Regions from separate parts of the Homo sapiens genome. Here all the other regions are linked to region 2. The links come from fine-mapping of genetic effects on gene expression. A gene starts in region 2. Each other region holds a variant in brackets. All regions are shown on one strand. Distances are between the middles of the regions. Region 1 overlaps DGKK (diacylglycerol kinase kappa). Region 2 holds the start of DGKK (diacylglycerol kinase kappa). Region 3 overlaps DGKK (diacylglycerol kinase kappa).

Evidence for each region. PIP is the estimated chance that this variant, and not a neighbour inherited with it, causes the effect. A credible set is the group of variants that fine-mapping cannot tell apart.
Region 1: its variant is the best candidate, but not a certain one, in a credible set for the expression of DGKK in whole blood (TOPMed, PIP 0.62).
Region 3: its variant is the best candidate, but not a certain one, in a credible set for the expression of DGKK in whole blood (TOPMed, PIP 0.64).

The regions. Positions count from the first base shown.
Region 1 is chrX:50,376,087-50,386,390 of GRCh38, forward strand. DGKK (diacylglycerol kinase kappa) reads right to left here. Exons shown (of 28, transcript NM_001013742.4): 15 at 10,272-10,304; 16 at 8,634-8,738; 17 at 8,082-8,178; 18 at 6,410-6,517; 19 at 3,895-3,991; 20 at 3,541-3,648; 21 at 2,492-2,605; 22 at 2,012-2,146; 23 at 672-832; 24 at 1-79. Among named protein-coding and RNA genes, the nearest start is that of DGKK, 90 kb to the right of the region's middle. The variant G/T (reference allele first, on the strand shown) is at 4,882.
Region 2 is chrX:50,466,690-50,476,993 of GRCh38, forward strand. It overlaps DGKK (diacylglycerol kinase kappa), which reads right to left and starts at 4,136. Exons shown (of 28, transcript NM_001013742.4): 1 at 3,345-4,136. The coding sequence starts at 3,989. RefSeq lists an enhancer at 3,299-4,096.
Region 3 is chrX:50,397,003-50,407,306 of GRCh38, forward strand. DGKK (diacylglycerol kinase kappa) reads right to left here. Exons shown (of 28, transcript NM_001013742.4): 5 at 7,047-7,182; 6 at 6,489-6,595; 7 at 6,059-6,181; 8 at 4,035-4,137. Among named protein-coding and RNA genes, the nearest start is that of DGKK, 69 kb to the right of the region's middle. The variant G/A (reference allele first, on the strand shown) is at 4,889.

The sequences.
Region 1 (10,304 bases), 91 kb before region 2:
ATTCAGGATGTTAGCGCTGGCATTCACAGAACCCATGAGGACAGACACATGCTGGTGGATCTTGCTCAGGTCATTAAGTCTGTAATAAAGCAAGGACAGATAGATGAGTTGGGATTTCTGAAGGACTTCTGGCCTGGGGCACTGGTGAGGGTTTGGGTAAGGGTAGAAGTGAAAGCCCTGGGTACCTGACTTGGACTCATGACTCCCTCCTGTTATTTCTGCTCTTCTCTAGGTAGCCACCTATGCTAGCAAATGTTTCTACTCTTCTCTAGGTATTTACCTTTACCCATCCTTGTCTCACCTGAATTTAGATATTGGGAATTTGGGGAGGGTAGAAGGCTAGAACAGAGGAGGGCAGCTGACTCTAGGAACTCCAAGGCCCTCCTGATATTTAAGGGCAAGGGTAAACAGTCTTAGTTCTATTGGGTTTGGATTAGCAACAAGAGATCCAAATTAATCCCTGGGTCTAATGAGAGATGTCTAACCTGGCTTATTGCTGAGCACAGAGAATATTTCCTGCCTGGATTGTGAGGGTCCCGCTCAATTTTTAGAGCTCTAAGCTAAATTCCTCTCTGAGGCCAGGCTCCCTAGTAGCCAATAGACACAAATTGGCTTCTTCTCCCTATGCCTTCTTAGGATTCTCAGCCCTGTATCTAGGCCAGTCCACTTACTTGCTGATGAGGTTTTCTGCAAGCCGAGCTAAGTGCTGCATCTGGGCATACTCCTCGTCAGAGAGGCTCTCTTGAGAGTCCTGGAAGTCCAGCTGGGGTTGAGGGGCAGCTTGAATTTCAGTATGCTTGTATTCCCACATTTTCATTGAGTTCTCAAAGTCCTGGAGATGAATACAGTGGCATATCCTAATGATTGCTGTAGCTACTAGTGCACATGACAGATCTGTCTGTGAGCCTGACGTTTGTGGGCAATGGGTATGTGGGTACAGTGGGTAGAGGGGAAGGAGGGCCCCCTGTCCATTCCCCCTGTCATACCCATCTATATACCTATACAAGTATCCATCATTTTATTCAATCTCTTCTGGACTATGCCCTTTAGTTTTTGTTGTTCTGAGTATGCTGGATTTTGGGACACCAGGCTTGGATCATACACATGTCTGGTTTCTAGAAGCTCCCATATGAAGGCATCATGACTGACAAGACAGTGGAGCACCTTTCATGCTCCCTTCTTTGCCAAATGTAGGCAATATGTGGTGATGCAGTTTAGAGCCAAACATATCTAATTTAATTTTGAATCGTGTTTCTGTCATTTACTAGTTGTGTGACCATTAGCAAATTATTTAACCTCTCTGGTCCTCATTTTCCTCATCTGTAAAATGGGAATAAGTGTATCCACCTCATAAGATTGTGGAGAGAACCTACATGAGAGAAATGTAAAATGCCTAGCACAGAATAGGCAGTTTATAAACTGGACTTCTCTTCCTTTCTCTATTGCTGTTTCCATGGACTTTTCACAGGTTAGAGTGCAAGATAACCTCCAAGCATTGAATATGTGATCAATAATAGCTCCTTTATAAGCTTTAGAAGCTTTAGCTGAAGTGGATGACATGTATTAATGCAGCATTTTAAGGAACCTTAGAGACACCTAAAGACCATGTTCAATGCAGAATCTGTTGCTGAAGGAGAAGATTTTTCCATAATCATCTGACGCTTTTAGCTCTCTTTGCAGTGGAAAGAGGAGGATAACCTTGTCGAAAACCAGGGGAGGAAGCTCCTTGTCTCACTCTCTTGGACAGTGTTTGCAAATGTCAGTATATATCAGAGTGTCTTGAGGAGCCTGTTTGCAAATTTGGGTTCCTGGGAACTATGCAACCCTATGTGGTTCAGTGGGTCTGGTGTGGGGGCCCAAGAATGCATTTATAACCAGCATCTCAAGTGACTCTGATGCCAGGGGCACACAGACCTCCTTTTGAGGAATTCTGCTTGAGTGGAAATATTCAGTACTCAAGTGACTATGGATGAGGCAGTATAGGAGCCCAAGACAAGATTTTCCCCCTTACCCGATCTCTTGTCAGCATCTGGGCAGCGTTCTTGTATCTAATTTTGATAAGGCCTGGTCTCTGAATCCAGGCCTCCCCATCCACCTGCACTGGGATACCTTCTTCACCATCAATGGTTATCATCACCTCATGGCACTGCCAGAGAAAATGAGGAAGAATGGGAGAGAAAAATGGGGCAACTGCTGTAACTCTATCTGATAATCTCATAGTTATGGCCTTGAATGTGTATCTGAAGCAGGACTGGAAAGGATGTGAATCAGATCATCCCAGGAAGAAATGCCTGTTTCCTATGGGCTTTTTGCTCCATTGGCTTCTGCCACCTCTGCCTCCAACCTCAGTCAGCACTTTACTGCCCACCAGATAACCTGCTCACTCCACCCTGGCATTCTTCTACCCAGTTAATTCCTGGGACTATCCCACATCCTGGGTAGCAGTCAAAAACCTCAGCCCCTTCCCAGTGCCCACCCAGCCCCTGCCTACCTGGGCAATGCGATGATGATGCAGGTTGATGATACGGGACATTGCCATCTGCACAGAACCAAAGATTGCCACCACCTCCAGTTTCCCATCATCGATTGCAGGAGCCTCATATTCCTGAGGAGGAAGAACTGTGTCACATCTCCCACCCTTGAGAAATCACACCCTGTCTATAACAAGAAGGCATGTTTAAAGGCTCCTGGTGAGAATTTTTCTAGCTCATGAAGAGTGGAAACACTTCATTATTAAAAGGGAAAAAGATGAGGTCAGAAAGCCAATCTGGGAAAAGGGTACTGCACTCTTAGCCAGTTCCCTCCTTTTCCAATCCAGCATCATAAATACCTGAGGCCAGTCTTATTGGCCTTATGACCTTCTTGGGTAAACTCAGAGTAAAGGGGTCATGGTCAGCATCCCAGGAGATTTTACTGACAGAATTCCTTGGAGAAAAGAGCATGGCCTTGGCCGGGCGCAGTGGCTCACACCTGTAATCCCAGCACTTTGGGAGGCCAAGGTGGGTGGATCACCTGAGGCCAAAAGTTCAAGGTCAACAAGCCTGGTCAACATGGCGAAACCCTGTCTCTACTAAAAATACAAAAATTAGCCGGGCATGGTGGCTGGCGCCTGTAATCCCAGCTACTCGGGAGGCTGAGGCAGGAGAATCACTTGAACCTGGGAGGCGGAGGTTGCAGTGAGCTGAGATCTTGCCACTCCAGCCTGGATGACAGAGCAAGACTCCGTTTCAAAAAAAAAAAAAAAAAAAAAGCATGGTCTAGATAGCCTTTAAAGGATCTGTCAGACCCGAGGAATGGAAAATCCAAAGCCCAGGCAACACCTACGAGTTGACCTTATCCTGAGGTCTTTGGTTGAATTTTCTGCTTTCGGATGGTAATTGCCTGAAAAACTGATCATACAGCTGCTGCTAATAAAGGTTCTCGGACCACCTCCTCTTCTCCCATTGTCTATTTTTCACTTCAGTTAGCACAATGCTTCCTTCAGAGAGACCTTAGTGGGATCATGCCTTTCTTCCTCCCCATTCCTTGTTCCATACTAACCGTGGTTGCTGTGTTGCTTCCCCAGAAGTTGATACCTCCAGCATAGCTGGTAATGTTGAGCACTACAATGCCTTGCAGGTTTGGCAAGGAGATGGTTTCTCCATCACACTGAAAGAAAAGAGTAGCTCTCATTAGCTGGATCTTTAGATAGCAACATGAAGGAACATTTACAGAGATGGGGAAAGGGCTCTGTCTTCTCTTCCATTACATGGAAATCTATCTTCATGCCTTCCTCCCATGAGCTGTGAGGATCACAGAGTTAAAGCTCAGGAAGAATCAGCATGTACGGTATTCCCAAGGCCATGAGATTTCCTTTCTCCATACCCAGGAAAGACTACCCGCTTTTCCACTAACCTCCAAATGCACTCGTTCTTCCAGTTTCCTGTAAGAGCGCTGCAAAAGTTCTTTGGTTCCCAGAAGGCCATACCACATCTTGTTCTTAAGGCGGCTACTACATGGAGGTAAGCATTAAGAAAGCAGAGGGTGAATGATATATAGATAAATGGTGGAAAAAGACAGGAAGGAAAACCATCTTACTTCTCAAATGCCTTCTTACAGAGAGGAGTCATGCTAAATGGCAACTGGACAGCGGTTAATGTAACTGATATCCAATGCAAACACTTGAAGAAATGGGTTCCTGGGCCCCTTTGAAGCCTCAGTATCCTATCAATAAATAAATTTTCCATTTCTGCTTGCTACCAATATTGGTCCAGACTTGGAAGAAACAGGCTATATTCAGACATCAATGCTCATAAAAAGCTATGAGCGTAGCTGGCTGGTACACACCAGCTACCCTAGTTGTGCTACTCCAGGAGATTTCAGCTGCTTGGAATCAATTTCATTTGAAACACGTGACTCTTAGAGTGCAATTTTTTTTGAAGCAGCAACTTTTCTGGCAAAGTGAAGTACTTTTCCAAACACCAGATCCATATACTAAATGCCTAATTCAATGCCATGGAACAGATCTAAGCTTGTAGGGAGATTTTAGAGGAGGAGCCAGTGGAGAAAAATAGGAGACAGGAAAGGATATCAGGTGACTTGAGGTGGAGGTGGGGAGGACAGCGTCTTGTTGACTGTGGAATCTCTGATAGAAATAGGTGGGGCACTTACGATCACTAGAAAGGCTGGATATAGTTTACTTGGAGCTTGTAAAGTAGAGCCACAGAAATGAGCCATCATCACATGGAATGAGTTTTGAAATGTCAGAAGGCTAGCACAAAATTATTGAGACACTGTTTAAACCATTCATTCTCTGGGCACTTTGGTGTTCTCATCTACAAAAATAGGAGTTTAGGTATATGAAAATGTACAATACCTAGAACAAACCAATTCTGAAAAAAA[G/T]AATCAAGTGGGGGACTTTCATCTCCCAATTTCAAAAACTACTGTAAAGCTATAGTTATCAAGATAGTGTGGTACTTGCATAGGATAGACACATAAATAAATAGAACAGAAGTGAGAGTCCAGAAATAAACCCTTGCATTTGTGGTCAATTGATTTTTGACAAAGGTGCCAACACGATTCACTGGGGAAAGGATAGCTGTTTTGAAAAATGGCTCTAGATCCGGGCGCGGTGGCTCATGCCTATAATCCTATCGCTTTGGGAAGCTGAGGCGGGCGGATTGCCTGACCTCAGGAATTCGAGACCAGCCTGGGCAAAATGGTGAAACTCCGTCTCTACTAAATTACAAAAAATTAGTCAAGCATGGTATCATGCACCAGTAGTCCCAGCTACTTGGGAGGCTGAGGCAGGAGAATTACTTGAACCCAGGAGGCAGAGGTTGCAGTGAGCCGAGATCATGCCACTGCACTCCAGCCTAGGCGACAGAACAAGACTCCGTCTCCAAGAAAATAAAAAAAATAAACAAATAAATAAATTAAAATGGTGGTGAGATAATTAGATATCCACAGGCAAAAAGATAAACTTAGACTCTTACCTTAGACCCTCACACTATACGTAAAAATTAACTCAAAGTAGATCATACACTTAAATGTATTAATAAGAGCTAAAACAATACAAACTTTAGAAGAAAACTTAGGAGCAAATTTTTAAGATCTCAGATTAGGCAAAGATTTCTTACAGATGGCACCAAAAGCATGGTCCATAAAGAAAAAAACTGATCAATTGGACCGCCTTAGAATTCAATACTTTTGTATTTCAAAGATACCACTAAGAAAATGAAAAGACCAGCAAGAGACTGGGAGAAAATATTTGCAAATCACATATCTGACAAAGTTCCTGTTTCTCAGCCCAGGCCTGCTTTGAGAAAGAGGTTCTAGTGGTGGTGGCAAGGGTGGGGTGTTGTGGGGTGGGGTGTCACACTTTTTACTTATAGCTTCAATGTACCACAAGAACTCTGAGACTGACTTAGGCCTTGTCTGAAGTATGAAAGTGCGAGAAGGTGCCATGCAGGCCAACACTGGATAGGGTAAAATTAACGGGTTCAGGGGAACCAGGTTAGGAACACCAAAAACAAATAGAGGGATGTTTGATACTTTGCAACTTTGTCAAGTGAAAACAGATCTGAAGCCACTACTGAAACCTGGTTAAACTTTCACAGACAGAACAAAGGTGGGCGATTTGCTAAATTGAGTCAACATAATCTGTTGTCAGTAACAGTAACACAGGTAGCTGTGTTTACACAGAAATCCACAGGTCTGGATTTGAAGGCAGCTCAAGTTTAGGATGCCAGTGCAGTCATCCAAAATTTGGCACACACTGTCCCGCTAGACTAGTCTTGGGGCCAATGCATTTTACTTCCAGTGGGTCCCTTTCTTTCTGTTGCTTGTCTGAGAGGTAGAGAATGTAGGAATACGTATGTGTATTGTGATAGTGTGTTTGCATGTAGGGAAGGGAGTTTCTTTTCCTTACTTGTATTGCCCTGGGTGTTCATCTCTTCTGGTGTTGAAGTCCAGAGAAATTTTAGCATCCAGTCCAATTCCGAAGTAGTTGTTCATGACACATTTTTCTTTGAAGCGTCTGAAATTATTCAAAGAAGAGGACAGACATTGGTGCAGGAAAGAAGTGCCGCTATCAATTGGGCATGAAGATGAATCTGCATGATGGAAAACCAGTGAGGGAAGGCCCCCTCCACACTGGGCACTAACTATAACATTTTTGAGAGGCACATGTAGATATCCTTTTGTGTGAACAACTAGCTTATTAGCTGTAAGAGGGAGTGCCTCGCCAGTTGGGAAGCTTCAGTGGGATTGGAACTCATAATAAAGAAGCAACATTGATGATTTTAGTCATCTTTGGAGGCCTTATGTATGAGTGGCCCATATTTTCTTCATATGTAGTATTAAGGGAAATACTGTTTACTCCTATAAAGAACTTTTGAATATCCTAGACACAAACGTGCCATGACAGTTAAGTCTGCACAACTGCTCTCAGTGATGTCCGACATCAAAGGGGAAAATGACCACACATTTGGAAGGAAAGACTGATAAAAGAGGGTAGATATGTACATAACAAAAAAGCCAAATTATTTGTCAAGTCTCCTGTGTCCATCTAGGGTGTCAGCATCAAAACCAGTGGTGTGCCATAGCCAGTTGGCACCAGCTCATGTAAACTGATTATGCATATCTCTTTCCAACTCCAGATTCAATGGCATTATATCACTAACTTAAATAGGCCATGGTGGAAGGGTTTACACCATAAATGAATCAGGGCTTTCTCCCCCAAGAGAGGAGGTTGTTAAACACTTTGCCAGTGCACTATTGATCAAAATTCATTAGGTAGATCCATGAGAGCTCAGACATAAATTTGAGCCAATGGTGAAGTGTGGGGGCAAGAATGCGGGTTGGAGACAGGAATAAAAATTGTTTTCTTAAATAAATTATTTAAGAAAACATAAATAATTTCTAGCTGTGTCCTTTTGAGAAATTAAATGGATACAGTTTAGCTGTTTAATCTTAGATTACTTTTTTATTCATTACCATACTGACCTTACATCTCTCACATGAGATTTGCCTCCCTCAACCACAGTCCAGAGATTGGAGTTTCTCTAACTAATGTCCAAACTGATCTTCTTAATGGAACTCAGAATGAGTGAGTGTGGCAGAACTTGGCTGCTGCCGATATTCTAAAGAGGGAGAACTGGTGAGACAGATGTCCTTAGATTTGCTGCCTAGTCCCCTAGTGACCATTTTAGTTTTTAGTATCTTCAACCATTTACTGTTAAGGGCAACAGTGAAAAAAAGCAAGTCCTCTGTAATAACAACAACTAACATTTATTAATTATTTATAATAATAACAATAATAACTGCAAATGCATATAACACTTAATTATGGGTGCCAAGCACTACTCAGTGCAAGTACTTTTCATATATAAATGTAATAAATACAGCAAACCCATGATGCAAGTTCTACAATGGTCTTCATTTTACATATGAGAAAACTGAGGCTCACACTGGTTTAGTCACTTGCGTAGGTGACACAGCTAGTAAGTAAGAGAAAGGATTTGACTATGGATATCCTAAGATTGTGCTCTTAACAAGAGAAAGAAAGAAGCCATTAAAAGGTGATAGAGTTAAATACTTACATAGATTCAGGTGTAAAATGTAAGTGATCCAAGTTAAGGTTGTCCAGGTCCTCACTTTTGAGAGAAGATATAGAAGACAAAGTGCCACGACGAGAACCTAGACACAAAAGACATCACTTGGGTGACGGATACAAACAAAAAAGCCCTTTCCCCTCACTTGTATTTCGCCCTATTTTCTCTGTGGAGGCAGGGTCAAGCTCAGTGACTTTCTCCTAGATAATATTAAGGGTTCTAATTCCAAAGAGGGATCCTCTTGGATGGATAGGGACTTCCACTGAGAGAAGAATAAAGCTGGGCTGCTTGCTTGCTGGCAGTGAAAACAACTTCAAATCTTGTATTTCATCAGGCCAGCCTCTTCAATGTTCCTAATGGGGTCATTACTCTGGACATTGGCATGGGATCTTATAGTGTGAGTTTCTGGGAAAGACGGAGGGGTATCTACTGCAGGATTATGGCTAAAAGAGGATGCATAAAAAATACATATTTATTCTTTGGGAGCTAAACAACAGTGACGAAGGCTAGAATAAGGGAAGAAGACAGAAAGATCCTTACGGCGTCGTGGGCTTGTCTGGTTAATATCTTCTGGGTCATCTTCCAGGAAGAAAGTTGAACTAAAGTTCTTAACAGATATTGTCTGTCTGCTTTCCTCATCCAGAGCTATAGAGAAAAGTGGGAGGAAGGAAAGCAAAAAAGAAAGGAGGAAGGGAGGGAGGAAGAAAGGAGGGAGGGAGGATGGAAGGAAGGAAAGATTAATTACACTTATTGAACATTTATCGAGCATCTATTTTGTTTAGTTAGTGGGTAGATGATGGAGACTCCCATTCGACCATCACGTCTCCTCCATGATACTGTTTGTAGTCTCAGCTTGCTTACAGTGTTGCTGTTTTTTCATATTCATGCCTGAGCTTTCTTTGTTTTACTGGTTACTCTTTTTTCTCTCACCCAGTACATGTGGTTGTGAGTAGAAGCTTGTGGCTGTGGATTGGGGTATCAGCATGGGAAACTCTCTGCTCTTCTACCTCCATTCTATTAGTTCATTTACTTATGTGGCTTTTGTCTATAATTGAGCCTCTAGGACTGTGCCACTCTTTCACTCTAATGTCTCACTCCACACCTGGAACATTTGGGAAGTCTCTTTCCTTTCACCAGCCAAATGTTGTATAGCTGAGATGCCCAGTCTCAGCCTGTGTCAAAGCTCATAGGTTCAATCTCTACCCCTACCAGGGAGGTATTTTCCTATCTCATAGCCACAAGCTACACCTCTAAATCTAACATATGTGTTGATGGAGCAGACTGAGGGTTGGTTGCGACAGTTATGGCTACATCCGTTTAATCTGATCCACACTGCTTGGAAACTAATTATAGAAATAGAGGCAAATTGATTGTTTAATCCTTCCACTGTGCAGAAGGGAGATTTTCTTTCTTTCTAGGAAACTTGGCTGAGGTTGTACGTGAAGGTACCAAGGCAGGGCAAGGCACCATGGCTAAAAGTCAAGGGCCAGCCAAAGGGACTTCCTTGCTGCATGGGACTTCTGCTCAGTTCCAATAGTTCAGTTAGAATACACTCATTCTTATACCACCTTCTGATCTGTTTCTCAAAGTATTGTGGGAAAGAAGTGGTCAGCAAAACATTCAATGAAGAAACTGAGGGAGTTGAAGAGTTTTCATTCTGAGTTGGGAAGTTTGCAGACTGTCGTGAGTTCTGAGCAATGGTAATTAATGCTAGAACTGTCAGGACCACTCTCAGGGCCCTTGTGCCTGATTAATCATGTGCAACACATGCAGAGTTGAACACCATTTTCTTTCTAAAATAGTCATAGGCTCAGTGGTTGGAAAGAAACAGGAGAAGGAGGAAAAAAGTCTTATGGCTGGTGGTGGAAGCTGATAGAGCTTTGAACCAGGTCACTTAGCATCTATTAATATAATTGTATAGGATGAGTGTTGGTTTCCAAAAATGAGTAGCAGGAGTTGACTGTCTGGGAGGTAGGAGGAGCCAAAGGGGCAGCTTAGCAGGACTGAGGCTTTTCAAATCAGTAGTCTGAATACTGACTTTGTATACAATATGAATGCAGAATCTAGACTTTTTGTAGCAGAGTCAGAGAGCAAACCCGGAGTCAGTGAGGCCAGTAAACCATCCTCTGGAACTTTTTCTTTCCCCTACCTCAGTCACTACAACCCTGGCCACCTTACCTTGTTCAACTTGAAATATGATGAGTTTCAAGG
Region 2 (10,304 bases):
AATCAAGGAGGGCTGCATTGAACTAGGCACTGAGAAAGGCCACCCCTATTTTTGAGAAGCTCAGAAATCACTAATAAAATATTGATAGGAATCACCAGATATCATATAAACAAATGCTTGCTATTTTGCAAGAAAATGTACAAAAATATCAGTTTTGTGCATAAAAGCTGTCCTGATATGGTTTGAGGATAATGGTTATTACTGTGCAGTCATCAGGAGGGATACACAGACCCCTTTTATCTCCCCCAAAAGCCATGAAAGTGTATCTCCCCTCAGATTTTCATCAATCATTTGTATGATGTGATTTTCATTTCATAGCTGGTCAAAACCCAATGAATAAACAAAATTTTGTCTTTCTTCAAGCACAGCTGATGAGAGAGAAAGAAACATGGTCTACTTCATATAAGCCCCATCCCTCCCCCAAGAGAGTTATAGCATTGCTAAAGAACCAATTCACACATCCTTACTTACACTTGCTGCCACCAGGTGGGAGACCATGGCTCATTTCCTGGGAATTGAAACATTTTAGAAAGGAAAGAAATAGACATGTTTGGTTCACAGACTGACTGTGTTATCCTGGTAGCTATTTGAAAAGAAAACATGAGCCCCCTTTTCTCAGTCAATTGCAGGTTCTGAAACTTTCCTGAAATTCCAAAAAAGAGCAGACTACAAGGCTGAAAGATGTTGGTTTTTTGCTACAATACCAGTCAACAAAATTATCTGGGAGAAACTTGCAGTCATATTCAAACACTTGGTTTTGCTCATTTCATCCTTTGAATTATCAGGATAGTTTCATGCTTGCTATGGAGGATTTCATTGCATGATGAGACCTGTATTTTGTTTTGTTCCCTGACATTTTGGGCACATATGTATAGTATGTGTGTGTGTTAGGGGTGTGTGCACGCCTGTGCGTGTTGCACAGTTTTTTCCCCCCAAGCTTGCCTCGAGGAGGCAGTGTTTGAAAACAACATCACCCCAGCTAAGATGACAACCTGTTTGCCTTGAATGTTAAGATACAAGCCAGCTGGTTGCAGGTGCCATTTGTCTGAGGAAGATGCAGGAGAGAATGATCCTATCACTGAAGATCAGATGTTCCCAGCTGCACCAGAGAGCAATTGCATAGCAACATTGAGGGTGTTGTAAAAGGGTTTGGCTCCAAGCAATTTAATTTGAGCACGTACCTAGATCCTTTACATCCTTCAAAATTCTCCAGAGCCACTGATTAGTTAATCTGCATGGCCTTCTTAACGGATGGTCGTGGTTCTTAACCCCATTCTACAGATAAGTGATTCAACAAATGTCTGGCTCTACTAAGGGCAAAGTCAAACCCCTGGGATCCTGGTCTCCTGCCAGTGTTGCCAGATGTCTGTGGGTCAGCTAGCCAGCACGTCTGAGTGGGCACTACGTAGAGGAAACTAATCTGATTCCCCTTACCTTAATCTTCCTCATCTGTCTGGCAATGACATTTTCCTGTCAAACAGGTAGGAGATGCTTTCGCATGGGAGCAGGGGATGCTTTTCACTGGGGGAAGGGTCCTGGTCGCCAGTCAGCCTTTCAGAGGCCAAAGGGGAGATGCATTCTCTGGGTATTACGTCCCCACGTGTCAGTTTCACAGCCATGTTCCCAAAATTTCGCTTAAGATGGCCACAGGTCAGGTGATTCCTGCTTGTCTCTTTCCCACCAGCTTAATGCAAACTCTTCCAAAAAGACAAGATCAATCACCCGGTGAGGGTGAGCTCCCAAATCTAGCCACCCCAACTTTGCCCTTCTTAAGATCACTGCAGGAAAGGGTATTTTCAGGAAGGGGAGGGATACATCCCCTGGTGAGAGCTAGGGTGTTGAATTTTTAAAAACTTATCAGAGTCTCCCACCGTCATGTTTTATTTATTTTTAAACCTCTGCACTTTCTTTTCTCTGTGAAACTTTTCATTTTAGCCTTCTTTTTCAGTTATTCGTCATTGCAGATATTTTGCAAACTCAAGCCTCCCTACTAAGAACTCAGGAAGCAACCAATGCTTCCATTTCGTGATGCCAATCTGCCCCCTCCCCTCCCGCATTCTACATTCTATAAGTGTGCGGTCCACAGCAGAAGGGTTCCTGAGCCGTGTCCTTATGGTCTGCTAGGCAGCAGGATGGACCGGTATTGTTCGTGTGTTGTGTTATTCGTTTGTGTGTGTGTGTGTGTGTGTGTGAATGCGCGCGCGTGTGTATGTCTTCCTGCAGGGGAAGCTAAATTGAGGTGTGTGTGTGCATTATCCTGGTTTTCAGTTTTGTGGAACGAAGTTTAGGGTAAAGGAAGAGTAGGGAGAGTGCAGAGAAAGCAGGAAAGACAGGCATACTCCCGCTTAAGAGCAGACGGGGTTTCAGGGTCCAAGGTAAACACGAAAACCTTTTTCCTCCCTACTCCCCTTGGGCGAGTGCCAGAAGATTCTCCACTCATCTTTTCCCGGCTAAGTGTAACGATTTAGAAGGCGTCGCGGTAGACTGGTAGAGATGAAGGTTCCCCTTCACACGTTCTGCAATCCCAACTCCTATTTTCGTGTCTCTAAACCAGGACTCCTGTACCATTCCAATTGGCCCTGGTGCGGGATGCCAGTTGCCCCGTTTGTGACGCTGCGCAACATTGTATCACTGCGTTTGCACCTACCTGCTGGGAAATCCTGCAGACAGATGGAATGGTGGCTTCGACACACGCATGCTCTCCCCCTCCTCCCGGAGAACCCTGCCCTTCCCCTGCAGTGCGCGTGGGCGCCGCCCATCCCCTCGTCCTCACCAGGAGTACCAGCTCGAAGCAGCCGGCAGAGGCGCCGGGCACCTCCCTGGAGGGCCGCCAGTTGCGCCCAGCTGAGGCGCCCCCTCCCCAGTGGCAGGGAGGGGGCCAAGCAGGCGAAGGCTCCGCAGCTTGGGCCTCTGCGGCAGTGACCGCGGCTAAGAGGTGTGTCCCACCGCCCCCACTCAATCCGTCCGCTATGTATTCGGGGCCAGCCCCAAACACTTCTCCAGGTCTCTTGCGCTCCCCGAGGGTATCTTCCTCCTCTCTTTCAAGATATTGGCGCTCACCGCACTGTCGCTTCTCTTCAAGGGGAAAACTGCTCCGATTCCCACCCCCTGCTGTCACCCCCGTTTCTAGCCCCAAACAGCCCATTCTCGATTCCCACATGTTGCTTCCCGCCTCCCAACCCCTTCCCATTCCCCCGGGTTCCCCATCCCTGCATCTTTCTCAGCATCTTGGCCAGCCAGTGCCAGACAAGCGGGATGCAAGGGGTACCCGGAGTCCCGCGGGCTCCATAGCCATCTGACTTCGCCTTGCTTCTTTTCCCCGCTTCAGGGGGTCTTTTGCTTACCTTTATTCTGGACCACGACATTGGCGTTCTGGGCGATGGCGATGGCGATGGCGATGGCGAGGTCTTTAGACCTCTCTCTCGAGTGTCCACCGGACATTGCAATAGACATGGTGCTGGACTTGGACGGAACTCTGGAGCCGCCTCAGGGCAGAACTCTGGGGCCAGCTCTGTCACAGGTTCTGGGGTCGGCTCTGGGGCCAGCTCTGGGGCAACTTCTGGAGTCAGCTCTGGGGCCGGCTCTGGGACCGACTCTAGGGCAGGTTCTGGAGTCGGCTCTGGGGCAGACTCTGTGGCAGGTTCTGGGGCCGGTTCTGGGGCCGGCTCTGTGGCAGGTTCTGGGGCCGGCTCTGTGGCAGGTTCTGGGGCCGGTTCTGAGGCCGGCTCTGTGGCTGGTTCTGGGGTCGGTTCTGTGTACAGTTCTGTGGCTGATTCTGAGGTCGCCTCTGGACAGGGACCTGGAGCAAGCTCTGGACAGGGCTCTGGTATGGGTTCTGGCGAAGCCTCGGAGAGCAGCGGCGGAGCCGGCGGCGGAGCCGGTGGTGGTGGCGGCGGCGGCCAAGGCGGCGGAGGCTCTGGAGACTCAGCGGGCTGCTCTCCATCCTGAGGCGGGGCAGTGCCCTGGGCTGCGGCAGCTCCGCGGTCCATGGCCGCACACCGCTTCAGGTCTGGGCAGCCTGAGTCCCTAAGCCTGGAAGGCTAAAGTACCCTCGGGCGCCCCGCCCACTCCAGTCCGGCAGCCCCTCGCAGGGTGCCAAACTTTCCCCCATCCCACTCCATGGCTGGCTTGGCTCTGAGGTCTAACCCGTGGGCGCTCAGCGTCTCCCTATGCTGGAACACGCCCCTCAGTGTGCGCACACCTCTTCGTAAGCAGCCACGGGTCCGATGGGCGGGAAGCAGAGGGGCTTGCGAACGCGGACTGGGCAGAGCGCTTGATGACCTCCTAGCGACGCGCGGGAGGGGAGGGGAGAGACAAAAAGGGGAGGGGGAGTGGAGCGGCGTGGAGGTTGGGGGGCGGGCTGGAGCCTTGCCGTGTTTAACCCTTTAGTGACACGAATGAAAAAAAAAAGCCAGAGGCGAAGTTGAGGGTCTTTGCAATCCCCCAACCACTTAGCTGCTGGTCAGAATAGCTTCCATCCTGTGTCTGCTCTCTCACCTCAGCAGCAGGTGAGCTTAGCCTCGGACCAACCTCTTGCCCCCCATCTCCAAGCCTCGATGGGCAAGTAATGCTTTTTATCTAAGCCGGGAAAAGAAATTAAGCGGCATGGTGTGTGTGTGGTGGGGGGGGGGGGTGCGGGGGGGGCGGGTGTTCAGCCTCCTTTGGATTGAAGTACAATTTGACCCTCTTCGGTTTTTTGCATTTCTGAGCTTTGCCGTTGGGTACAGAGTTTGAGGTGATTCGGGAAAGGAGTGTGATGAGGGAGGCTGGCGCCCCGGCTTTCCGCAGCCTGCAGCCTCCCCGAGAGCAAGTCGAGAGTGCCCCGGCAGCAGCTGGGCTTCGCGCTCGGGAGCTGAGGCTATCTGGGCGTCTGTCTGGCTCGCCTATGCTATAGGAGCCTGCCTTGTGCTTTTAGCTGGATTTCCCAGCCATCAGCAGGAGTTTGTTTTTCCGCCCCCCCCAAACTTGTTAACGCGCGCGCGCGCGCGCGTGTGTGTGTGTGTCTGTGTGTGTGTGTGTGTGTGTCTTGGGCTGGGGAAATTCACTGCAACACCCACACCCTTTTCACCTCCTGAAGCAGTCTGACATTAGAGATGGGAGATTCTCTTGGGAAGAGAACGACTGATGCCTAGCGCAGCACCTTTCCCACCACATCGGAAGACTTTAGAAGCTCTTTCTGTTATAGTCACGTACACATACACACAAACCATCATCTTAGTCAGACCTAGACTTTAGACGCCAATATATTACCAATTGTAATTAAAATTTGAGAAGACTACCTGTTAAGCCACAGCTGGGTGGGGGGAGCGGACGGGGGAGAAATACCTGTAAACCTGATTTGAAATATGACAAGTGAATTTATCTCCCATACACATAATGCTGCAGTTGTGGGTAGCAGCCTTCTTTCTGCAGCCCCTTCTCTAGCCATCTACTCCCAGACCATATCCCCCACTATTCCCTCTTCTTTTGCCAACGGACACTGACCTAGCCAGAATTTTCTAGAATCTGCAACATCTTTCTGTTGCCTATACTATGTCTCAGCAATAAATAATACCATAAGAGCACAGTTTCACCTAAATCCCTCCAAAGACCAGAATCTCTGGTGAGGTCTGCATTTCCCAGATCCTCGCTGCAGCCTCACAGCCTAAGCCCACCTTTCCAGAGATGTGTTAACACTGCTTGGCAGCTACTAAGCTAGTGCAGGGACCGTCCTTAAACTCTGGGGATGGGAAGACCAGGAGAAGTGAGCCCTATCAATTCCCTCACGTGGCAGTCCTCCTTCCAGTAAATTCACCTTAGGAGCCCACTCTCTTCACCCTCCTTGGGCTTGTTCTCCTTTCCCCTATCCCACACTCAAGTAGCCAAGCCGCCTTTAACCCTAAGAGTTCAGGACTGAAATATACAGGTGCCAGATCTCATTATTGGATCTGGTGCATTAAAGTGCCAGATCTGACCAACCAGCAAGTCCAGGACTGGAGATCACTTTTCTGGCTCTCACACCTTAATGGAATCCCTGTCCTTAGAAGGGGCAGATATCCCACATTTAAATTTTGCTTTTTACTAAACCCAACATGTAGTTAGAAGGGCTGAAGGCTGAGCAGTCACAGAGTAAGATGGCCTCTTGGGTTACAGATGGCCTCTTGGGGTTTGGCATAGACAGTGTATTGTCAAGCGAGATACCACCAGGGGACAACTTGGAGTTACTGCTTTATGTATGTTTATTGAAACTCTTGTCTATAATTCTACACTCAATTATAATGAGGCCAACATTTATGATGTAGACTCTTGCTACAAGGTCATTTTGAGATTGAATGCTAAAATAGTTGCTTGTACATGGCTTTTGCTCCATTAGGGTAGGTTACTGGAGATATACTGCCTGAACTGCATTATGATTAGTTTTGAAGGTTTTAAAAAATTATTTTTCAGCCCATCATTAGCTACCTTATTGCCTCATATCATAGTAAGGGTTCTTTGTGTGTGTGTGTCGGGGGTTCCTTAGCCCAGCATTGAATACCATGCTTTACATTGGAGGCAGAGTAGAGGGATGGCCAGAATGGTTGATTGGTACCTGATTTGGGGAGGCACCTTTGCTGTAACTAAGCTACACCTTCCTCTTTCCCATAACCTGCTGGTTTCTTAATAAAGTTTTACTTAGATGCTTCTGTATTTTCCTCACAACCTAACCCAGGACTTGAGGTCATAGTCAGGATTCAGGAAATGTCTGTTAAGTGGATGATTCATTGTAGGTTACTGGTTAGGATGTATTTTTCTGCCTTGCTTTTCAGCACTATTTGATATTTCAAATGATTAATGATCTCCTAAGAGGCTCTCTTTTAATTAAACAATACAGATTTTTAAAAAGGCAAAGAGGTACATAAGAATTTCTTTAACCAGACATATCTGGAATGATGACCGTATCCACAGAGGCTTGGATGAACATAGTTCTGGATGTCCCAGGGCAGAAATGGTCCTTAGCCTGGGACTTTTGGGCATGTTATATAAGTTACCTGATTGGGCTGGATGAAGGATCGATCAGTACAATAGGCTCATATCTTTTGAATATGCAATGCACTACCTTACCCAACTGCCAGCATTTACTCTGATTCTACCCAGAATAAAGCTTATCCAAGCCAGCATGGAGCTCCTTCAATTTCAGCCGTGCTCAGAGTTCTGGAGAGGCAAAGGAGAGAAAAGCTGAGAAATGTGACAAAATTAAATCTCTTCTCCCTTCCTGTTTTCATTTCATTTTCATTATTGAATGAGAGAGTGGCACTGTATTGCTAGAGTGGAAGCCCTTCCCCCCTTGATCAGTAGCTTTAAATTCCCTAAGTCCTCCCTTTTAGAGCAATTTGGGAAGAAATCAGTGTCTCTCCCGAGTCTTAGCAGCTGCCAACCTCCCCTACTGTACTACCTCGGGATGTGCCAAGCCAAAATAGCAACCTTTATAATAATCTACTAAATAAAATAAGGAGATGGGATGAAGAACAGGCAGCATGTATGGAGAAGGTAGAGGATTCAGACTATTAATTTAGCTGGGATTAAAATGCAAACCTGTTAACCTTTACTCACTCTAGTCTCCTAGGATTAATTGATATAGGATTGGAGAGTTAAAAAGTTAATACCTTGCATTTGTATAATGCCTTTTTATTTCTAAAGTACTTTCACATATATTATCTCACTTCAGCCTCACAACAAATGTGTGAGGCAAGCAAATTCGGACTTCCATCACATACCCCTGTCCCCTACCCTTTAACAGATGAGAAAACACAAGTCCAGTGAGACTAAGTGCCATGTCTTAGGTCACAGAGATAATTAGTGGTGGAACAGACATTTAGAACTTGTGTCACTCAATTTCCAGCTGAGGGAGACCAGAGCACAATACTGAGGGCTGTGAGCTGGGGGCTGTGAGACAGGGTCTGTGTAAATCCTCTTCATAGCAGAGTGGGAAGGCTGCCTTAATGCCTTTTTCTTTCTTGAGCTTGTCAAAGGAGCAGAGGTTTCTCAGCTCTCACTCTTTCTGGACAGCAGTTAATGATCTGCAACCAAGCTCACTATAGGAGGTCCCTGTTTAGAGGAACATTTTTGAATATGTATGTAATATAATAATTCAACCAGGGTATACTCATTTTATTGGTTCTGTTTTTATGTTTTCTTGAAGTGAAGCACTCCACAGTTAAGCGGTATTTACTGCCAGTCTGTGGTGTATACAGCCCTATTAGGTGTCCTGGGGAAGGAGAAAGGGCAGAAATATTAGACGTGATCCTTCCCACAAGAATTATTAGAGCTTGGTGGTCAAGATAAGCCAAATACAGGTGAAAAGCAATCCAAACACAGATGCCAGTTTATGATCATGACACCACACTTTGTACTTTTCTGGGGGGCTGGGGGTGGGTGGGGACTAAGTGTGACAGAGCGGAAAGGAAATTGCAAGGGGAGTCAGGAAATCTGGCTTCATATTAAGGTTCTACCACTAAACTCTCAACATGACCTTATACAGATCATTTAATGTCTTTGGGCCTTAAGTTTTCTCGTATGAAAAATGGAGGTGGGAATAAAGTTGAGCTTGATCATCTAGCTCTAAAGTCTGTTTTAGCACGAAATATCAGCAATCCTGTGAGTGAATCACGGACAGCTTTTTGTAAGGGGACAGATCTTGAAATGGATCTTGAATGATGCAATTAACATAGATCAGCAAAGGGGAAGTGGAAAGGCATTGCAGACAAGGAGAGAAGCAAAGATAGAAATCTGGAGGTGAGAATGAGCCAGGCTGGTTGAGATAGAGGGAACATACCAACGACTGATGAGAGATGAGATTAGAGTGAAGCAAGTGGTAGGGAGAAAGCGGGATGTAAAAGGTTTTCAACATCAGATTGAAGAGTTGGAAGATTTGGTTTTAAAGGTAATGGGAGCAATGAAGGCTGTTTGAATATAGGTGTACATGGTAAAACTAACCAGTGAGGAAAAATTGTCCTTGACTGTGTATTTGGTTCTGGAAGCATCTACAAATCTGCTTTGTTTCCCTAGAGCTGATATCCAGTTGATTTGAGGTAATTTGTAAAATCATGATTCTTTCTTTATTTTTGCTGCAACCTCTAGCTTTGGGTCTGCATTGCCAAGGCTGCTGGCCCAACTGGCTTAACCACCTGCCTATACATTTGGATTTAGTCCATAATGGGTCATTTGGCTTCCATGGACTCAACATGCTAATGGGATTTCTAATTTAAAATTCTAACTGATGATGAATGACCAGGGGATGAGAGAAAGGTCTTTGTAGGTAAGCAGGAGTGGGATGGTTGTGGACCTCAAAGCAGATTCAGAGACTGAAAACAGTTTGAAGAAAGATAAGAAAAAAAATGAATCTTTGCAGAATCTTTAACTCACTGTGGCTTAGACATGGGGGAAAGCTGATGAGAAACAGCCATCCAGTCTAACCTGCCAAGGATCTAAACCCAGCTTGTATTAATAAGAGAAAACAGATTGCTCTAATGGCATAGAGAAAAAAGTGGTGGAAATTTTGGTGTGGCAGATCACAGGTGTGTGTGGGGGGATCTGAGGGAGGGAGTATAGAGCTGATAGTGTCCCTTAGGTGATGGTGTTTAGAAGGAGTGAAAAAGATTATTAGAACCCTCCTGGTGTGGTGTCAGTAATGGAGGCAGGCAGACATTTGTAATACTCAATCTCAGTATTTGAATATGTGTATGTGTGTGTGTCTTTATCCAAAAAGGAAAAAAGATAATGTTAGTAAGAATTGTCTCGCACAAAATTACTTTGTTACCTCACCACCCTCTACAAACGCTTTATGACTGACTTTAAGAGGGAAAGTGATGGATATAGGAGGGAGGAACGAATAGAGAAAGGAATTTAAGAAAAAGAGGTGTTGATAGGCAGAACTGCTGTGATGAAAAAGGTTGGGGAAGAAGGTGGCTTTCTTTTCCTCCAAAGAACTGCCAGCAGCCTTTCCAGCTGTCCCTTTTTCTCTTTCTTGTAGTTCTCCCTTACTGAGAGTTAGCTCAAAATGCAGAATTAATCAGTTCTGTCATAAGAAGGAATCTCAGGGGAGAGGCTTTACACAATTGAAGTGACTTGCAAGGACAAGGCGTCACAGAACTCAGTTGTCTTAGATGGAGATTAAAGCATTCAACAGTCATTTCCAGGACCTCCCTTCTATCATTCACCTTTTGGTTTTAAGTCCCCATGCTCTAGTTATGACCTTTAGGCATGGCCATTTCTGGAAGGGCCTATTCCCTTTAACCACACTTCATATGACAGAACTAGGCTCAGTTTCCCCCTTTCTCTTTCTCAGC
Region 3 (10,304 bases), 70 kb before region 2:
TTGACAGGCTGACTGGTCAAAGTCCAGGGATGAAATGTAAAGGGAATAAATGTGAAGCTTGCCCTTTAGGCTCAAGGACATAAATTGTACCAGAACAGGACAATACGAACTTGACTTGGCAGCATCAAGTGTGAAAAGAGCTTAGGGGACTTAGTTGACTTTAAGCTCCTGATGAGTCAACAGCCTGAAAGAACCTTTCAAAAAAAGCTCATGTTTCTTTGAGCTGCATTAATATAACCATAGTGCCCTAAACAGGGAGCCAACAGTCCCACTCAAATTCATTCTGTTCACTCCAAAGAAAGATGCGAAATTGGCATAGGTTGGCTTACCATTCTCTTCCCGTACTTTTAAAATCCTCCCTTACAAATGTCAACTCATTTAACCTTCATGACACACCTGAGTACAATTGTTATTCCTTATTGGCAGAAAACAAATGCCAGATTAACCACAGAGAGGTTAAGTAACTTGTCCAGGGGCATACAGTAAATGATAGAGTGTGTTTCTAGGACTAGTAGTATCAGCAACATCTGGGACTTGTTAGAGATGCAATTTCCTGGGCCCCACCCAGATCTACTGAATCAAATGCTCTGGGGGTAGTGCCCAGAAATCTGTGTTTTAACAAGCCTTTCAGATGCTTCTGATACAACAACCACTGCACTTCACTATTTTTTCTCCATATGAGCCAGTGATGCTATCTTAGTCGTTGCTCAGCATTGAGCCTTACATACAGGCAGTATTCAGTAAATGTATTAAGGAATTCATGTAACAAATCTTGACTGTGTGTATACCGTATACCCAGGTCTGAGTCAAGTGCTAAGGATACAGAGAGCTCACAGTCTGGGGTGGAAGATGGACACCATTATAATGTCATGTGTTAGGTGCTTTGAGATATGTCTTCTTGGTTTATAGCCATAGAAGTAATTGATTTGTTTGGGAGAGTGGGAAGAGGCCATTACAGAAGCTGTCAAACAGAGAAGACAATGTTTAATTTTGAGCTGGACCCTAAAGGATAAGAGAAGGAATATACCAAGCAGACTGGATAGGAAAAAGGGATAATTGGAAGGAATTCTCAGAAATTAGAGTCTACTGACTGAATAAATATATACGTGAACAGATGGGTGTGACTCAACGCTAGCAAGGGCCTTCTCAGAAAGTCATGAGCTGGATGCCCTCATGACTTCAGCTGGGTGCTGAAGAAAGGATTCTCTAGCTCAGCCAGGGGGCATTGAACCAGACCATCTTTAAGGACCTCACATGGCTAAGATTCTATGACTGGAAGATGCAAAAGATTCCTCTGGGATGGGACCTTCCAGTAGGAAACTTACCCATTAAAGGGCATAAAGCCACAGCCAAGAAGCCAGGAAGACAGAGTCAAGAAGATAGGGAAGTTTGAAAGACATTTCTAAGAAGTTCTAGGACAAGTAATGCATGATAGAAAGAAGGGCTGGCAGTGAGTGAGATTCAATTGGATCAAGATTGCAGATGACTAGGAGGAAAAGTTAAAAGCTAACTCATGGGATATTAAATAAGACACCAAACAAAAAGAATAGATTAGCCCAGGTGCTCCTAAGCAATAATATTATATCACTGGTGGAAAGAAGAAGAAAGTAACAATGCCATTATTTGACAAGCTATAACAAGCATAAGAAGTGATATAGGATAGGAAGAAATAAATTTTAAAAACACCAACACAAGGACAGGAAGCACAGAACATGTTTGGCCCAGTTACAAAGGAGAGGCGGCAACCCTCTTAACACCTATTTGGGGTCATTTGTGGCATGCTGAGGTGGGCCATCTGCTTAAAGACATCTTTGTCAGGTCCCTGTGGGGGTGAGCAAAATGTCTCAGATTCAAAACTAGGTTGATTTCACTACCAGCCTGATTTTGCTCAGCTGACCAGTTTGCTACTTTTCTTCTTGTATCAACTGCATCTTCCCCTAGTCCCTCATTCTCCTAACTAGGCAAGTATCTCTTATTTACTAAGTCATCAATTTCATCACCTCTTTGGTCAACTACCTGGTGGGTGACTCCATATGGATAACTATTTGAGTAGATCTGAGAATAATATATGCATGTATACCTGAGTGAAATTCAGTTTTGTGTCTTTACATGTTATTATGGGGACATATGAGTATACTTGCCTGCAGAAACCTGTATGAATGGCTCATTCCATGTACTAAGGTCTAGCTATATCTGTGTTAGGGTTGGAAAAATAACCGGAAGGATCTAGAGTGGCTGTGTGTGTGTGTGTGTGTGTGTACGCGTGCACATATATATGAGCACGCACATACACATGTGGTATGTCTAGTTCTAAAACTATGTTGTAACGGCTACAGGAATCTTTGCCCCCTTCTGTTCTCTAAGGAAACCATCTACTCTTCTTTCTTTTCCTTTCTTTGCTTCCAGCTAATGCTGGCTCTTCCCTGGCAGTGAAGTGAGCAACTAGCATCTATGTGGGGATAATTTTTAAGTCAGTGAAACGAGGGCTCACTAATCACTCTTGGACCAGTGGATATCCCACACGTCAGAGATGGACAAATTAGCAAATTAGAGAAATATAGATTAAAACATTCCAGGAAGAATTTGAACTTTCCTCCAGTAAGTGAAATTGACCATATATAGAGTGAAACTAATCATACACAAACTGAAATTTATGAGCAGTGTATCTCTTCCCTGGCTTAGTGAAATAGTAGTATGTCAGTGGTAAGTATATTAGATTTCTAAATCTCTTAGTATTAGTAAAATAGGTTAGGTCTTTTAAGCTGTGATATATGATTTTGATCTTGACAGTTCCCACTCTTTAATAATGAGTAATGGGAGAAGTAAATGAACAAGTCAATGGCAAAAAGGAGAGTCTCTCAGAAAAAACAAAGAAAAAGTAGGGAAGGAGAGGTGAATTCAAAAGGCAGGTGCCAAAGAGTGAATCATCCCTGTGGGGTCTGCACTTTTTATTAGGCTAGGAGACTAGATATTTAGTTGCCCAAGAAGTTGAGGGATTTAATTTTATGGTCCTTTGAGGTTATGTTTTTAGATACTTAGGCCCTTCACATATTATCATCTATCTTCACAATAGATAGCTTCATTCCCGTTTACAGATGGGGAAAGCAAAGCTCAGAGAATGTAAGTGACTAACCCAACATCACATATCTAGTAAGTAACTAAAGCTCATAATTGCCTAGCTCTTGTTTTTTTTCCTTACGTCATGATACCTCCATGTCTTACTTATTCTTAAACAAACACAAAAACTATACAAAATACCCTTCTTCTTGGCTTCTGCTTTTTTTGTTCTAACATTGCTAGACCTCTTGATAGAAGACTCTATACAAAGTTTATTCTTGCTGCATTGATTTCATTACTACCTCCTTTCCGCTCAACCTCCTATAAATGGTTAATATTTCTAAGGTTTTCTCATTTCCAAATGTCTCTACCATTCCCTTGGCACTTAGCATATGACACATCAAATTGTTAATTGTTGTATTATATCAGTAGCCTGAATCCACAATAATCAATAGCTCTGGCAATGCCCATGTCTTAGATCTTTCTGTAGCCTTCAGACACCTTGAGAACAGAGTTCTTAATAAATCACTAGAGTCCAGGAATTGACAAAGCATCAGTGAAGTTGGGGTAATGATCATGTTAGTTTCATATTTAGGAACAACATTGGTGTTTGTTTCCATTTTAAAAGTAAGATAACCTGGCCTTCATGAAGTTCTTCCTTGACCACCTGGACACAAACTTATTTAATGACTTATCCAGTGTTTGGAAATCATGAAAAAGCTGAAATCAATTCTGATCAGAAACAATTGTGACCGAGCTACAGAGAACATGCCCACATACATATACACCAGAAAGAACAACATTCACAATCCCAAAGGTAAGAGAACCAGGAGCTATCTATATACACATGCACAGTCCTACTTCCCCAAAATGTTTGACTGGTTGAGGAGAATAATTTAATTGCAGTGCTTCTTCCCAGCCTTTGCACCTTCCCTACATGCCCAATGTGCTTCTGAGGTTAAGATTTAACTACTCACCATCGCCTTTGGGGTCGCTTAGAGCAGTGGGAGGAATGACTGATGAGCGATGGCTTCTGAAGCAACATTCCTTGGAAAACCGTCTCCTACAGTCATCATGCACCTGAAACGACAAGAGAAGAGCAGAGAAAAAAAAGGAGGGGGAGAGAAAAGGATATCATTGATCAGTCTTGAGTTCCAATACCAAGATTTAGATTCTTAGTATTTAATCTCCCTTTCTGAGATTTGGTGCCATACATATATCCCTAACTCACCTGAACACCCCCATTCTACTCTGAGCCTACACTGTCTCTCAGTGTGGCCTCAGAACTCTGGTCCTTTCAAAGGTAGCTTTCAGAAGATACCCACCTACAGGCACTGAGAAATCACCAGTTCTAAGGCACAACCTTAGTGGCCTGCAGAATGGGGAACTTACATGCAGTATAAAAGAGTTAATAATAATAATCTAATATTACACTTCAATCCTTATAACAACAGGTGTGTGAGGTAGAAAAAACACTATTGAATTCATTTTAAAAATGAAGATGCCAAAGCTCAGAGAGGTAAAGGGTTTTGCCCAAGGTCAAACAGCTGGGAAGTGACAGCTGAGACTCTGCTGCCTTTCCCACAAGCGGCCATTCTTTCCAGATTTCTGACATCTTCAAGTGCCACTTCCTGGAAAATTACACATTTTCTAGGGGGAATGAACCTGGCCTGGTTATTCAAAAGCAATTGAAAAAAAAAAACAGAGGACAACCAGAGTCTTCTAAGAAGAAGCCCATACTTCAGTTTCTTCTTGTCTAGAAAACTCAGTTTTGGAGAAGCATCTAAAAGGCTAGAAATCTAGATCAGGGTCTCTCAACTTCAGCATTACT[G/A]ATATTTTGAGCCAGATAGTTCTTTGTTATGAGAGGCTGACCTGTGCATTGTAGGAGGTTCAGCAGAATACCAGGCCTCTACCCACTCCATGTCAGTAGCGCTTCCCTCCACCCTGAGTTGCAAAAATAAAAAATGTCTCCACACACTGACAAATGTCTCCTGGGGGGCTAAATTACCCCCAGTTGAGGACCACTGGTTTAGAGGCATGGTAGTGTTGTAGTTAAGAGTGTGGTCGGCTGGGAACGGTGGCTTATGCTCATAAGTCCAGCACTTTGGGAGGCCAAGGTAGGAGGATCACTTGAGCCCAGGAGTTTGAGACCAGCCTGGGCAACATAGCAAGACTCCGTCTCTACAAAAAAATTAAAAAATTAGCTGGGCATGGTGGCATGTGCCTGTAGTCCCGGCTACTCTGAGGAGGCTGAGGTGAGAGGAGCCCACCTCACACGAGCCCAGGAGTTTGAGGCTGCAGTGAGCTGTGATTGTGCCACTGTACTCCAGCCTGGGCGGCATAGTGAGACCCTGTCTCAAAAACAAAAAACAAAACAAAACAAAAAAGAGCATAGTCTTTGCAGAATTATGTATGAATCAAGACTCTTGCTTACTGGCTGAATGACCTTGGACAAATGAAATTGGTCCAAATGACCTTGGACCCCTTCACTTTTCTGACCCTCACCTTCCTCATCTGTAAAATGGGAACAATGAGGCCCGGTTTAGGCTTATTGGAAGGAATAAATGAGATCATGTATATTAAGCACTCAGTATATAGTGGCAATAATAATGTGTTAATATTATCAACCATTTTTAATTAATAAAGGTTACAAGTTCCTAGGAAATAGTGAATGAGAAAGGGAGTAGGTTTCTCAAAGGCAGACTCAGAACTTATTTTTAATTGCCCATACTGCCATTAGAGAGCTCAGCTTTTCCCATTTGTTAGTAGGCCTCACCAATTAAGAAGCAACAAAGATGGTCTTAAATCTTTCTCCCAAAGAAAGGCTCCATAGTCAGATCTGGAAAGGCAGGATACTAAGATTTATACTATGGAATCTGTTTAACCTGTTTTGAGATAAGAGTTTCTTAGATTTCTATCTATGTGTATACATGGTCAAGCTCTAAGCCACTCCCTCGCCAGGAGTTAAGTTCTCTAAATATCAAGATGAGAAGAGTCTTACCGTAGAATTACACCACAGGCAGCGGAAGTCTTGAAGTCTTTGATAACTGCCACAGCTCTCATGACACACTGCACACTGAGAGCTGACAGGCATGTTTCCTTCTACCCATTGATGGGGCATGTTCTGCAGAAGGGTAAAAAGACACAGGAGGTAGAAGTTAGAGACATAAGGAGAGGAAGGGCCAACTGGAATAATTGTACTACTCCATGGAGGACATTAGGTAAATGACCCAAATGACCCTGCCCTCCCTACTCCAATGCAAGTGAACAATGACAAGTGGAGGAGGGAGGTTCATTCTTCCAGATAAGTTGGATTGTGAGCCTAGGACTTTGCTTATCTGGAGTTAGGAAGAAGTCTTCCTCCCCCTGTGTATCCTGGTTGAAGGGGACATGGGAGAGGCCGACTGTGGGAAGACATGGCTAGTACTTACTACTTCATCTGCAGGCAGAAGGAGGTCATCAGTGATAGACAATGTATTCCACTTGCAGTCTTTGCTTGCTCTCAAAGCACACAATCTGTGAGATTTCACTTTGCACACTGTGAGAAGAGGAAGAGAAAAGATGGGTGTGAATCTGGTGACAGTGAGGATTCTAATTCTCTTCCCAAAGCTGCTCTGAAAGTTAGAACACAGATGCATTCTAAATAGTTCTAATGCACCTCCAAAAACCTATTTCCAATAGGATCCAGTTCCTTTTTATTCTTACTGGCTAATCTTTTTATTATCCAACTTGAATGAAAATTGATGGTAAGAATGAGGTGATTTCTGTCTTTTTAACACTTGTGATAATATAGTCCCATCCCCCCACACTCATCCTTCTATTTTCATCCCCTTTATGTTAGTTTCCTCCCTTTTTCTTTCCTCAATCAGGGTTAACCTCACACCAGAGTCAGTGACCTAGTATGAGTTAATGATACTAAAGCCACATGAGTTCCTTCATCCCTATATCTACCCACTGAGCTTCACTTCCTAAAGGAATCAGAAAGGTACCTTCACAGATGATGGCATCTCTAGATAAGGCAGGAATGCTCTCTCGACAAACATTGCAGTGCTGGGTCCGGTGGCTGTAACTGGAGTACCAACAATGCATTCCAACAAGAAAAGGGTTGTTTTCTGCTGCAGGTATCTAAAATAAATAAACGAGAAGAGAGAATGGAGGATGAATCACAGAGACGGATTAAAGAGGGCCTGAAAATCTGCTGCTAAGTCTAAAATGGCCTGCTGTATAGGTGTCAGAGCGTGTGAAGGGGAAGACTGAAAGTTGGAGCCAATACCTGGGACCTGGGATACTTTGTGTGCGTTTTTGTTTGTTTTGCCAGTCGTTTCAAAAAGAAAAATAATAGAGGGGCAGACCCTGGAATAGAAGCTGAAGGCAGGAGTAATTATCTTTTTTTTTTTTTTTTTTTGAGAGGAAGTCTTGATCTGTCACCAGGCTGGAGTGCAGTGTCGCAATCTCGGCTCACTGCAACCTCCGCCTCCCGGATTCAAGTGATTCTCCTGCCTCAGCCTCCCAAGTAGCTGGGACTACAGGCATGCACCACCACGCCCGGCTAATTTTTGTATTTTTAGTAGAGACGGGGTCAAGTGATCTGCCTGCCTCGGCCTCCTGAAGTGCTGGGATTACAAGCGTGAGCCACTGTGCCCGGCCAGGAGTAATGATCTTTATACTGCTTGGCCAATCACTCTATTGTCTTAGTTCAAGCAAAAATGTGTTGTCTTAGCCTTGGCCTTGGTTCTCTAGCCAGGGAATAAAGACAGGAGGTAAGGCTCTGACTCTGGGCTAGGGAATATTATAATAAGGCTTTAACTACCTCCTGGAGGTATACACTTTCCTTCCTGGCTGCCAGGTGAGCAGAGCATTGCTTTACCTGGACGACAGTTTCATCTCAGGGGATTCTTTTAGGAATCCCTTGAGTATTCTTTTAGGAATACCACGCTCTGACTGCCTACAGCAGTTTCCTGATTAATCAGCTTAATTCATCCAATAATCCATTAAACAAATATTTACTGAGTAAATACTTTGTGCTTGGCACTTTTCAAAGCATTTGAGATATAGTGAACAAGACACAACCCCTGCCTACATGGAGTGGCATTCTTTTTGGTGTCCTCTTTCATGGTACTGAGTTTGACATTTTTTGTTAATGTGCCTTAACATTTTTTGTTAAATGCTGCATTTGTATTTCACAGCCTGACTTTCATGACTGTAGGGAAAGCAAGGGTATACCAGCAACAGTTTTGAGATTGAAAGAAGGGAAGGGTGAGCACCAAAAAAACTCCAAGGACTCTTACACCTTTTCACTAATTCCTGAGAATGTCTGATTTTCTCCTTCTCTGCCTTCCCCTGAAGTTCAGACATAGGCGTACACAGAGCTTTTCATTCTTGACATTATAATGAGTTGGGTGTGTAAAGGCATGACAAGACTTTAAAAAGAACTATATTTTCTTTCTGACATCAGTTGACAGTGGGGGGAGAGAGAGAGAGAGAGAGAGAGAGAGAGAGCTAGCTACTGAGGGCTCTAGCACATTAAGTATTCATCCTTGATCAATTTACATGAATTAGATATCCAAGACATAGCCTGCACATTGCCCTCTCTGACCACTCCTTCCCACTTCTGGCATGCTGGTTACGTGCTAAGCTACTGTTGATTTAACCTGGAACCTTCTGGAAGGGAAAGCTATTTTGATGAACTAAAGGCTCACATGTTCTGGGATTGCTTTGTGATTGTAATGTTTATTGTACATTAAGACACTGGAAAGCTCTAGGGTGATTAGAATAGAAGATGGAGAGTCCTGAGGGAGTGACATACTCTTGGCTTTGGCACTTTGAGCTCCTAGAACCTTTCTACTCCCCAAGTCACTAGATTGTAATTCTACAAGCATCTTTTTTTTCCCTCCCAGTCTCCTCTCCTCCAATAATTACTAAGAACCTATTATGTATCATCTACCATGGTAGGCACTGGAGATGCAGAGATGAATAAACCATAGTTGTTTCCCTCAAGGAATTTATAGTCTACTGGAGGAAACAAATTCTAAAACAGATCATTCCTGTATAGAGTGACAAGTGAAGCTCTTCTAGAATGTGCAAGGTTTCACAGGACTGCGTGGAAGAAATTCAGAGCTCTGCCTGGGTATAATATTAAATTTCATCATCTAAATTGCCTACAGAATACAAAGGAATAGGTAAAATGGACATTACTTAGGTTCAGCAGTTGAGGTGATGGAATTTATATTCCTTGTGTACATCCTATTCTGTAAGAAAAAGTTGATGCTTCCCACCCTGGATGAGTATGTGTGGCGATTGAACTGTGTCCCCTCAGAAATATGTTCAAGTCCTAACCCTTGGTACCTATGAATGTGACCTTACTTGGAAATAGGGGTTTAACCGATATAATCAAATTAAGATGAGGCCATAATGGATTAGAACGGGCCCTAATCCAATGACTGGTATCCTTATAAGAAGAGAGGAATTTGGACACAGACAGGCACACACAAAGAGGAGAACACCTTGTAAAGATACAGAGCACACAGACACAGGGGAGAACACCAGGTGACAATGAAGGTGGAGATTGGAATGATGCATCTGCAAGCCAAAAAATGCCAAAGTTTGCCTGCAATCACCAGAAGCTAGGAGGAGGCAAAGAAAGATCCTTCCCTAGGGTCATCAGAGAAAGCATGGCTCTGCAGATACCTTAATTTGGGACTTCTAGACTCTAAAACTGTGAGACAGCAAGTTGCTGTTGGTTTTAAGCCATCCAGTTTGTAGTTATTTTATTATGGCAGCCCTAGGAAACTAATACAGATTTTGGTACTGGGAAATGGGGTGCTGCTGTAACAAATACCTAAAAATGTGGAAGTGGCTTTGGAACTGGGTAATGGGTAGACTAGAAGAATTTTGAGACACATGCTAGAAAAAGCCTAGATTGCCTTGAACTGAGTGTTTCTAAAAATATGAACATTAAAGGTGTTTCTGATGAGGCCTCATGTGAATATGTGGAACATATTGGAAACTAAAGGAAAGGTAATACTTTTATAAGGTAGCAGAGAACATGGCTGATTTTGCTCTACTGTTGGGTGGAAAGTAGACTTTGTGAGCAATAAACTTGAATATTTGACTGAGGAGATTTCCAAGCAAAGTATAAGAGGTGCATCTTGGTTTCTCTTTGCTGTTTATAGTAATATGTGATAGGGAAGTGATACACTGAGGAAAGAAATTGTGTTAGTCTGCTCAGGCATCATAAAAAATAGCAT